Linked DNA regions of Homo sapiens: region 1 is linked to region 2. A link means that fine-mapping ties the variant in region 2 to the expression of a gene that starts in the linked region. Tissue or cell type: lung. Region 2 holds a variant in brackets; the other region holds the start of a gene. All regions are shown on one strand. Distances are between the middles of the regions.

Region 1 (5,265 bases), 620 kb before region 2:
TTTACAAAACATGTGGGAAGCAGGCCCAGAGCAATTGAGACGTCTAAGAAGTTCATAAGTATTATTTTCAAGGGACTAATAGCATAGAAGCTTTCTGAGTCATCGTTAGAAATATGTGACACCAGAAGGTAGGTCGCAGGCTGGCATCATAAGGAATAAGAGTTTGGGAATGCTTTCACAAGGCCCAGAGAAGGGATACATGGGAAGAAAGATGTCTATTTAGTCCTTTTTATTTTATTTAAGCCCAATTAGGGTATAAACATTGTGTAAAACCTTTGGATTTTCAGAGAGGAAAGATAATAACAAGTAGTTCAGTGAATGGTTTGAAATGCGACGTGGAAGGTATTGTTCAATATTATGCCAAGATCTCCCAATCTTGATGACAAACTTCCATGCAGGGACTTTGCAATCACCGTAGTCACTTAAAGCAAATGTGGTTGTTAGTGTCGTTCCAAACATTATTTTCAAGATGTGTTCAATACTAGTGTTTCAACTTACATGAAGAACTTTTGCTATAATTCATGTTTATGGTTTTTAGAAACACTCTAGAGAATAATTATGGCCAAATGGGTATATTTAATTTCTTTTCAACTTAATAAAGGGAGGTGTGGTAATAACCCTTTCCACAGAGACCAGCTGGGTGATAGGGTCAGAAGACGAAGATTCTGCTGGTGTAGGCTGGGGGAAACACTTTAAAAAGGAAGTGCATCTGTACTACAAGCAACCACTGCAAAGTAGGGAAAGGGAGAGTAAGGGGCCAGGGAAAAGTAAAAACTTGAGATATAATTACAAAGAGAAAATGTCACTTCACCTGGACTATCATCATAAACAACAGCTCCTGTACAATGTCCTTATAACAAAGGAAAAATGAAGAAAATAGCTCCCTACGTTTCCACCAAAAAGGTGGATGATCTTAACTTGTTGCAGAGGGCATGAGCTGTGAGCGGATAAACAGCCCACTCTGCTGCTCTGTCTCTGGGGGAGAATTGTTGCAGACTGCAGGTTCTCTGACTGCTGACAGATTGCCTAACTCTGGCCGTGGGCCTCCAACTTCGGGAAGCTGTGGGTATTGTATAAAGATGTAAGTTAAACACGTTTCAGAAGCAGCTTGGTACTGATTTGGGGAGTCAAGTATGTTTCAACTACAGACCTCAAAGTAAATATTTACTAATATGGCAAAAGTTCAGCTGTAGGGCAGAACCAGCAGCTAAAAAGCACAAGGAGGGAGATCATGCTTCCCTGGCTGCAGCTTGTTTACCAACCTTCAACTCAGATGTGCATGTTCCTTTGAGTGTGTGTGTGGGGTGGGGAGGAGGTGGAGTGGGAGAGGGGTAGGGGGGTGAGGGGTGGGGTGATGGTGATTGGGGGCTGAGGTTTACCACTTCATCAGTGCTCCATTTTCACTGTAAAGGGTTTGAAGGAACTGATTTTACCAGCCAGGTTCAAATTGTATGCCAAATTTGTATTATAGAGAGACTTGTGAACTCCATGTACAGCCCCATTTGCACAATAACAAGCTGTTACCCTCCAGGTGTTTTGATGTAGTGTGTTGTCCATATTTAGGACTCTGTGTTTAGGATTATTAGAAATGAGGAGAAAATAGGAAGGATAGGAAGCAAAACAGTTAGCTCAGCCAAGCAATTTATATTCTAGTTAGCATTTGGTGGAAGGGGAAAATTGAAGTAGTTCCTACAGAAAGCATATGGAAATCAGGTATCAAAGACCTTTTTTCACTCTAGGCTCAGTCACTGGTCATTCAGCATGTGAGGTTTTATGTTCAGGACCCTGCAGAGGATATCTGGAAGCCTAGCGATGAAGAGAAATGTCTTCTCAAGGAAAGGCCGAATCATGGGCTTTTCCATTACTTACATGGCAACCTGCAGATCAAAAAGTGTTTCAGAGGCTTAATGCACTGGAGTATCCCACTAGCCTTGATTTTATAAATGAGGAAACAGAAGGCCAGGAGTTAGGTGACTCCAGGTTACATAGCTATTCAGTGTCAAAGCCATAGAAGATAGGCAATCATTTGGCACCACACTCTTCCACAATTCCTTTATGAAGGACCAGTTTTCCAGTAGGCAATCCAGGAGAAAGAAAGAGAGAGAGAAAGGGAGAGAGGCAGGGAAAGAGGGAGAGAGTGAGGGAGCGAGGGAGCTAGGGAGTAAGGGAGGGAGGGAGGAAGGAAGGAAGAAAGGAAGGGGGGAAGGGGAAGAGGGGAAGGGGAAGGAAGGAAAGGAAGGAAGGAGGAAAGGGGGAGGGAAAGAAGGGGGAAGGAAAGAAGGAAGCAGGGAAGAGGAAAGAAGGGAAGGGGGAAGGGGAAAGAGGGGAGGGGGGGAGAGAAGGAAGGAAGGAAACAAGGAAGGAAGGACTAATTTGAAAAATAACCAATGTTTTACCTAGGCTTCAGTGAATACCTCCCCCTCCCCACACCAATTTACCGCTTAGATAAATATGTTTAAGATTACTTGCAGGCAGAACTACTTGTGTTACAGCACAATTGTTTCTACTTTCCCCTTGGCTCTTCCCCGCATCCAGAAGCCACTACTGCCTCTAAAATAAGACCACAAGGCAAACACCCAGAGACATTTGAGCCTCCAACTAGGAAACTAGCAGAAGCTCTACCACTGCCCACAGCAAAGATTCAAAATTGGGGTATGTCGAAACCTTCACTGAATTCATATATTTACTTTTCCGGTTCACCCTACGTTACACAGAAGTTGAGATTCCTTCCCTCCGCTGAGAAAAGTGCATTTTCTTTCTCTGTGCCAACACTGCTGGATCCGAGGCTCCAGGAGGAACTGTTGGCAAAGCAGGCGTTTTGGGACCGCGCCTGTGATTGCTCTGTGGCGCCGACTTCCTCTCTCTGTTACATCCATATACAAATGCAAGCTTATTTATTTATTTTAATTCTCCCTCTCTTGCTAGCAACCTGTGGACTTGGCATCTGACTGGTGCGGCAAGGAAGGAGGCTGGTAGGTAAGCGCTACTGTGCCCAACCCCGAGCTGCCTCTTCGCAGTCTTCAGGAGCAAGTCCCCCATTCCAGCTCCTCTGGCAGAGTATGGAGTTACCTGCGTCCGGGGCAGGAAACCATGAATGTGCCCTTCTGCCCTCTTGCCTTTCTGCCACTCTTTGAGTTCCCGTCCTTAATTGAAGAGCCAGTGACTATTGGCTGAAGTTCCCCCAGCGATTTGCATGAACCGAGAGGGAGTGTCTTCTGCCGCCCTCCCTTCAAGAGCGCTCTGACTGCAGCCTCCCAGGGAATGCGCGGCCGAGGGAATGCGCGCAGCTCACAGGCCCTGGGAGTGAGCTGGTGCCCGGCGACCTGGCACCCGCGCCTGGATATGGGGCGTCTACATCGTCCCAGGAGCAGCACCAGCTACAGGAACCTGCCGGTAAGGGTTAGGGTCAAGGAACCCCGCGACCCCGACAAGTTGCAGTATTGTGAAGCAATTCCCACTCGGATGGTTTTTCAAACCTTCTACCTTTATCTAAACTTCACGGGAAGGATGGCGCCGGGAGGGAAAGGGAGTTTGGGATAATGTGTCTTCCTTTTAACAAGGAATAGGGAAGTCCGTGGGTCATGAGAGGAAGTTTCTGAAGCAAGAAATGTATCCAGATAAGGTCGAGGGCATCGGGGGTGCGCTCAATCCGCTTTAGCTACAGGGGTTCGGGATCGTTTCCTGCTGCTGGCGTCTGGCTATGAATGCCTACTGCAATTGACAAATTGTTTTTGCATAGCCATTTTCCGCGTTTACTTTGCTTCCCCCTAAGGGAGGGGGATTAGTGACTGCTTGGTAAGGGGTGGAAATCCAGATCCTTTCGGTTTGATTTCAGATGTGTGCTAAAATAAAAATCACTCTTTCCGACCTAAGACCTAAAGTGTTGGAGGTGGAGGAGGAAGTGTTGGTATTTTTTCTATATTATTATTATTATTGCGATTGTGGTTGTTTTTATGGTTCTCTTAGTAAGGGATGTAACACACTGCGTGTTCCAGCACTCTAATGGCAGAATCACTTCAAGGAGAAATAAATTGCCCACCTTTCAGTGCTCTCTACTACCAGCCCCCTCCCTCCCCATCACCTACCCTGGGTTTCCGTGTCGCTTTGCGCAGTCTCTGAGTCGGAATCCTCTCCACTCCGGTGTGTGTTTCCAGGGATGTTTTACGGTTTGGGATTCTGAATGTTAGCTGGATGAGGGTGGTGATGGGGAAACGAGGGGGGAAGGCGGGGGCGGAGGGGATAGAAAGTGAACAGCAAAATTAAGTTTTGGAGACGATATTGCCCCACAGATCTCTCCTTCGCAGCAGGGTTCTTCTCCGCCCCCGTTCTAATTAGAGGTTTTGCTTCTGGGAACGGGGATGGGGACAGCAAGGATCACAGGGGCGCTAGTTTCTCTCTCGGACCCCTATTTCCCCGTGTGTGTAATGAGCTTTCTTCCCTCCCCCAACTCCAGCATCTGTTTCTGTTTTTCCTCTTCGTGGGACCCTTCAGCTGCCTCGGGAGTTACAGCCGGGCCACCGAGCTTCTGTACAGCCTAAACGAGGGACTACCCGCGGGGGTGCTCATCGGCAGCCTGGCCGAGGACCTGCGGCTGCTGCCCAGGTCTGCAGGGAGGCCGGACCCGCAGTCGCAGCTGCCAGAGCGCACCGGTGCTGAGTGGAACCCCCCTCTCTCCTTCAGCCTGGCCTCCCGGGGACTGAGTGGCCAGTACGTGACCCTAGACAACCGCTCTGGGGAGCTGCACACTTCAGCTCAGGAGATCGACAGGGAGGCCCTGTGTGTTGAAGGGGGTGGAGGGACTGCGTGGAGCGGCAGCGTTTCCATCTCCTCCTCTCCTTCTGACTCTTGTCTTTTGCTGCTGGATGTGCTTGTCCTGCCTCAGGAATACTTCAGGTTTGTGAAGGTGAAGATCGCCATCAGAGACATCAATGACAACGCCCCGCAGTTCCCTGTTTCCCAGATCTCGGTGTGGGTCCCGGAAAATGCACCTGTAAACACCCGACTGGCCATAGAGCATCCTGCTGTGGACCCAGATGTAGGCATTAATGGGGTACAGACCTATCGCTTACTGGACTACCATGGTATGTTCACCCTGGACGTGGAGGAGAATGAGAATGGGGAGCGCACCCCCTACCTAATTGTCATGGGTGCTTTGGACAGGGAAACCCAGGACCAGTATGTGAGCATCATCATAGCTGAGGATGGTGGGTCTCCACCACTTTTGGGCAGTGCCACTCTCACCATTGGCATCAGTGACATTAATGA
Region 2 (5,265 bases):
AATAACGCCACATATCTACAACTATCTGATCTTTGACAAACCTGAGAAAAACAAGCAATAGGGAAAGGATTCCCTATTTAATAAATGGTGCTGGGAAAACTGGCTAGCCATATGTAGAAAGCTGAAACTGGATCCCTTCCTTACACCTTATACAAAAATCAATTCAAGATGGATTAAAGACTTAAACGTTAGACCTAAAACCATAAAAACCCTAGAAGAAAACCTAGGCATTACTATTCAGGACATAGGCATGGACAAGGACTTCATGTCTAAAACACCAAAAGCAATGGCAACAAAAGCCAAAATTGACAAATGGGATCTAATTAAACTAAAGAGCTTCTGCACAGCAAAAGAAACTACCATCAGAGTGAACAGGCAACCTCCAGAACGGGAGAAAATTTTCACAACCTACTCATCTGACAAAGGGCTAATATCCGGAATCTACAATGAACTCAAACAAATTTACAAGAAAAAGACAAACAACCCCATCAAAAAGTGGGTGAAGGATATGAACAGACACTTCTCAAAAGAAGACATTTATGCAGCCAAAAGACACATGAAAAAATGCTCATCATCACTGGCCATCAGAGAAATGCAAAGCAAAACCACAATGAGATATCATCTCACACCAGTTAGAATGGCAATCATTAAAAAGTCAGGAAACTTTTGTTTCCTGCTGGAGAGGATGTGGAGAAATAGGAACACTTTTACACTGTTGGTGGGACTGTAAACTAGTTCAACCATTGTGGATGTCAGTGTGGCGATTCCTCAGGGATCTAGAACTAGAAATACCATTTGACCCAGGCATCCCATTACTGGGTATATACCCAAAGGACTATAAATCATGCTGCTATAAAGACACATGCACATGTATGTTTATTGTGGCACTATTCACAATAGCAAAGACTTGGAAGCAACCCCAATGTCCAACAATGATAGACTGGATTAAGAAAATGTGGCATATATACACCATGGAATACTATGCAGCCATAAAAAATGATGAGTTCATGTCCTTTGTAGGGACATGGATGAAATTGGAAATCATCATTCTCAGTAAACTATCGCAAGGACAAAAAACCAAACACCGCATGTTCTCACTCATAGGTGGGAATTGAACAATGAGAACACACGGACACAGGAAGGGGAACATTACACTCTGGGGACTGTTGTGGGGTGGGGGGAGGGGGGAGGGATAGCATTAGGAGATATACCTAATGCTAAATGACGAGTTAATGGGTGCAGCACACCAGCATGGCACATGTATACATATATAACTAACCTGCACATTGTGCACATGTACCCTAAAACTTAAAGTATAATAATAATAAAAAATAAAATAAAATAAAATACAGATATTGACAAAAAGCCAGCTCATAAGTATCACTAATTCAAAGAGTATTTGAGATTAATCACTGTGGCCAGGCGCAGTGGCTCACACCTGTAATCCCAGCATTTTGGGAGGCCGATATGGGTGGATCACAAGGTTAGGAGTTCAAGATCAGCCTGGCCAACATGGTGAAACACTGTCTCTACTCAAAATACAAAAATTAGCCGGGCATGGTGGCGCACACCTGTCATCCCAGCTACTTGGGTGGCTGAGGCAGAAGAATTGCTTGAACCCAGAGGTCAGAGGTTGCAGTGAGCTCAGATCACACCAACACACTCTAGCCTGGGTGACAGAGCAAGACTCTGTCTCAAAAAAAAAAAAAAAAAGGAATAAAAAAGATTAATCAATACATAAAACAACTTGAAAGGTTCTGAAATCTTAAAATGTACATATGAGTAAGTTTGAGGGTGGTTTTCAAAATGTGTCAACCATGTTCAAAATTCACTATATTTCCAATAACAGTTTCAAAAATGAAAAGACTAAATTATGTTTCTGTTCTGTATTGAAAAACATATAACAAAATCATTGTCTTTATTTAAAAAGGTACCAATACTTATGCAGCTAAAAAATAATAAGAAAAAGTATTTAGAGGTCTGTAAAGCAGTTATTAAAAATTGATATTTTCTAAATTTTGGGGTGTTTGGGGATGTTTTCAACTTTTAATTTGTTAACATTTCTTATTTTATATAACTATTCAATTTCATATCTAATGTGGCAAAGCCTTGCTCTCCTAAAAAAGTCTGCCTTTTTCAGAAATGGAAGGAACATCACAGCTTCTCTCAATAGGATATATAGTCAGGATAGAAATCAAAACCCACGGACCTCTGGCTCAGTAGATAATCACTTTATGTAAGAATTACATTTCAGTAACAATGTCATAAGTGAATAAATGCTGCCTAGCAATACACAGGCATAGTCATTATTTGTAGTTTCTTTTTAAAAGCATTTTTTCCAAGCCGTCTTTAAGAATCTTGCTTTCTCGCAATTTTCCTCTTTTCTCTTTCTGGACTGATAGAGAAGCAAGTTAAAGAAAATTCTCCTACACAGTTTCCACTATTGGCTTAATGACTAACACTCTTCTCAAAATCTGGCTAAGTGCTTGAGTGTGCTGCACTATGTGTTTGCTC[G/A]TGTGTAAAGTGGCATGCTTACAACTGGCCTGTTTTCCCTTTTAATGTTAAGAACTCACATTTCCAAACACAAGTGTGAGAGAAGCCAGAGGCCATGGAATCCCCTGATGTCACTGGCCTGCCCTCTGCCATGGTCTGCCTGGGGTGGCTTCTCTTGATTTAGTGGTGCCATAATGACGGAGTTGAGATAGCACAGTTTCGTGATTCTTTGGGTGGGGTTTTTCAAAGAGTGTACAGTCAAGTACAACTGAATGAAAGAGTGACATAAACAGGAATTTTTTTACTTAATTTAAAAAGAAAGTGTTCTGGAAAGACACTGCACTTTCATATTAGTTGTGTGATCTTAGTGTCTTAATCTCATTTGTAAAATGAGGATAACAGTATCTATGACATAAAGCTGTTTTATTTTTGTTTTTTACAATTTACAATCTTTTATTTTTCAAACCGTTAAGTGGTTACATTGAGAGACAGAGGAGAGGGCAGCTAGCTATTGATAGATTTTATTTCTATAAGAATCTCACAAATAACTCTTGAATATTGCAGCTGGATCAAAGGCTTCAATGAGGCTGCTGACTTACAACCTTCTCTATGCCTCCCATATACCTACGTCATTTTGTTGATCTCTAAATCTTAAATAGAGGGCTTCCTCTGCTGGAGCAGAGACTGGGATCATCAAACCCATTTTATCTTCTTCCTAGACATGGGTTTAGATTACCTTTCCTGGGCTACTTGGCTGTTAGGTTTGGCTGTGACTGAGTTTTAAGTAATCTTAAAGGACTTTGTAAGTACTCTTATAGGACTAGCCTATGAAAAATTTCCAGGCATAATTCTCCATATTTCTTCAGCTGCTACAAGCCTAATAAAGATAACCATGGTAATTATAGAAGCCACTGCTAAGGAAGATATAGGCATTGAGGAAAAAAAATCAGGTCCCTGAATTATTGCTTTGGCAAGAGTTACAAATCAGGAGTATCAGTTTTATAAGTAAACAAGAAGTGATTTTTCTATCATGGTTGAGCAATGACACATTTAGGGTTTATTTTTTTTTTAACAGCAGTTGCCTTAAATGAAATACCTCCTAATTGATATTAGTAATGTGATTACTATGAGAGAAATGTGATTTGGACTTTGAAAATGTATTTTCCCTTCTCCTTATAGAGAAAGGTTACAATATGCAACTTTTGTGAAGATTAAAATAATTGCTTCAGTGATGTTGCTTGATTAATTATACATATTATAGTTAACACTACTATTATCGAGTCAACAGATGTTTATGAGCATTTACTAAGTAAAAGTTGCTGTGGTATATCTGACAACATAATAGTTGACAAGAACTCTCATCTCATGGAGCTTATGTGTCACCATTCCACTTAAAAAATTCTCCTGTTGCTTTTAACACAATGACGTAATGATTTTTTCCTGTGTTCCTATTTTTTAATTCTCTGCTCCTAATATGAACCCTGAAAACATTATCAGAGTGCCTCCCATATAATAAATCAATAAATTTTTTCAAATGAAGAAATATTGCAGCCATGGTGTGAATTTTAAAAAGCCAGAAATTACAATGGCTAACTGCATGAGGGAGGATAGAAGTATTTATTAATATAGATCTCCATGAATGTATGAAGAGAGCTCCAAACAATTATATAAGCTGTAAGCCTCAAAGAACTTGGATCTACCCTTGAATAACAGGTTTGTAGACATAATAGTTAAGTTTATGTGTCAGCTTGACTGGACTACAGGGTACCCCGGTATTTGGTCAAACATTATTCTGGGTGTGTCTGTGAGGGCCACTTTGGGTGGGATTAACATTTAAATCAGTAGACCAGTAAAGTAGGATCACCCCTCATAATGTGGGTGGCCCTCATCCAATAAGGTGAAGTTATTAATAGAACAAAAGGCTGATCTTCCCCCAGATAAGATAGAATTCTCCTGCCTGACAACCTGCAAACTAGGACGTCAACTCTGTGGATTTAGGACTTGCAACCTCCATATGCCTGAGCTAATTCCTTATAATAAATAAATAAATAACCAACAGTGATATGTGTGTACGTGTGTGTATGTGTATGTATATATATAAACAGAATAATGCATATTATAAGGAGATATGTGTGTATATACATTCTAACAGAACAAATTATATATACTAATACATATATATGTGTTATATATTGAGGGATGTGTATATATATGTGTGTGTGTGTGTGTGTGTGTGTATGTTCTGTTTCTCTAGAGAACCCTAATACATTAAAAAGGTTAAGTTAAATTTCAGACTTTTTGAATCTGTGACTCCTCTGAGATATTTTATATACTAAAAACATGCCTTGGATTACTGAGAGCATTTTTTTGGCCTAAAAAATCACATATCAAAGGTGAAATCCCAAAAGAATTGTTCTCCTGACCATTCACCACTCTTTATTGGAATGAACATAAGTAAACCCTCTATAAGAAACATGCATAGATACAGCCCCATAAACTCAAATCCAATGCAACTTTGCACACAATATCCAGATCCCATGAAGTCTCATCTGTGGCCCTTAGCTAAGAAGACCTATTCTGAAAAGTTTCAATAAGAGCCAAATTTAAGAAGAGCATTACTTCACAATTTCTATATTTTTCTATTTGTAGATTTTTAAGAAATAGGCTGTGCGCGGTGGCTCATGCCTGTAATCCCAGCACTTTGGGAGGCCGAGGCGGCGGATCACGAGGTCAGGAGATGGAGATAATCCTGGCTAACACAGTGAAACCCCG

Evidence for each region. PIP is the estimated chance that this variant, and not a neighbour inherited with it, causes the effect.
Region 1: it holds the start of PCDH20, and the variant in region 2 is the best candidate, but not a certain one, in a credible set for the expression of PCDH20 in lung (TOPMed, PIP 0.58).

The regions. Positions count from the first base shown.
Region 1 is chr13:61,413,155-61,418,419 of GRCh38, reverse strand. It overlaps PCDH20 (protocadherin 20), which reads left to right and starts at 2,571. Exons shown (of 2, transcript NM_022843.4): 1 at 2,571-3,393; 2 at 4,454-5,265. The coding sequence starts at 3,262.
Region 2 is chr13:60,795,942-60,801,206 of GRCh38, reverse strand. No RefSeq gene overlaps it. Among named protein-coding and RNA genes, the nearest start is that of LINC01442, 120 kb to the left of the region's middle. The variant G/A (reference allele first, on the strand shown) is at 2,515.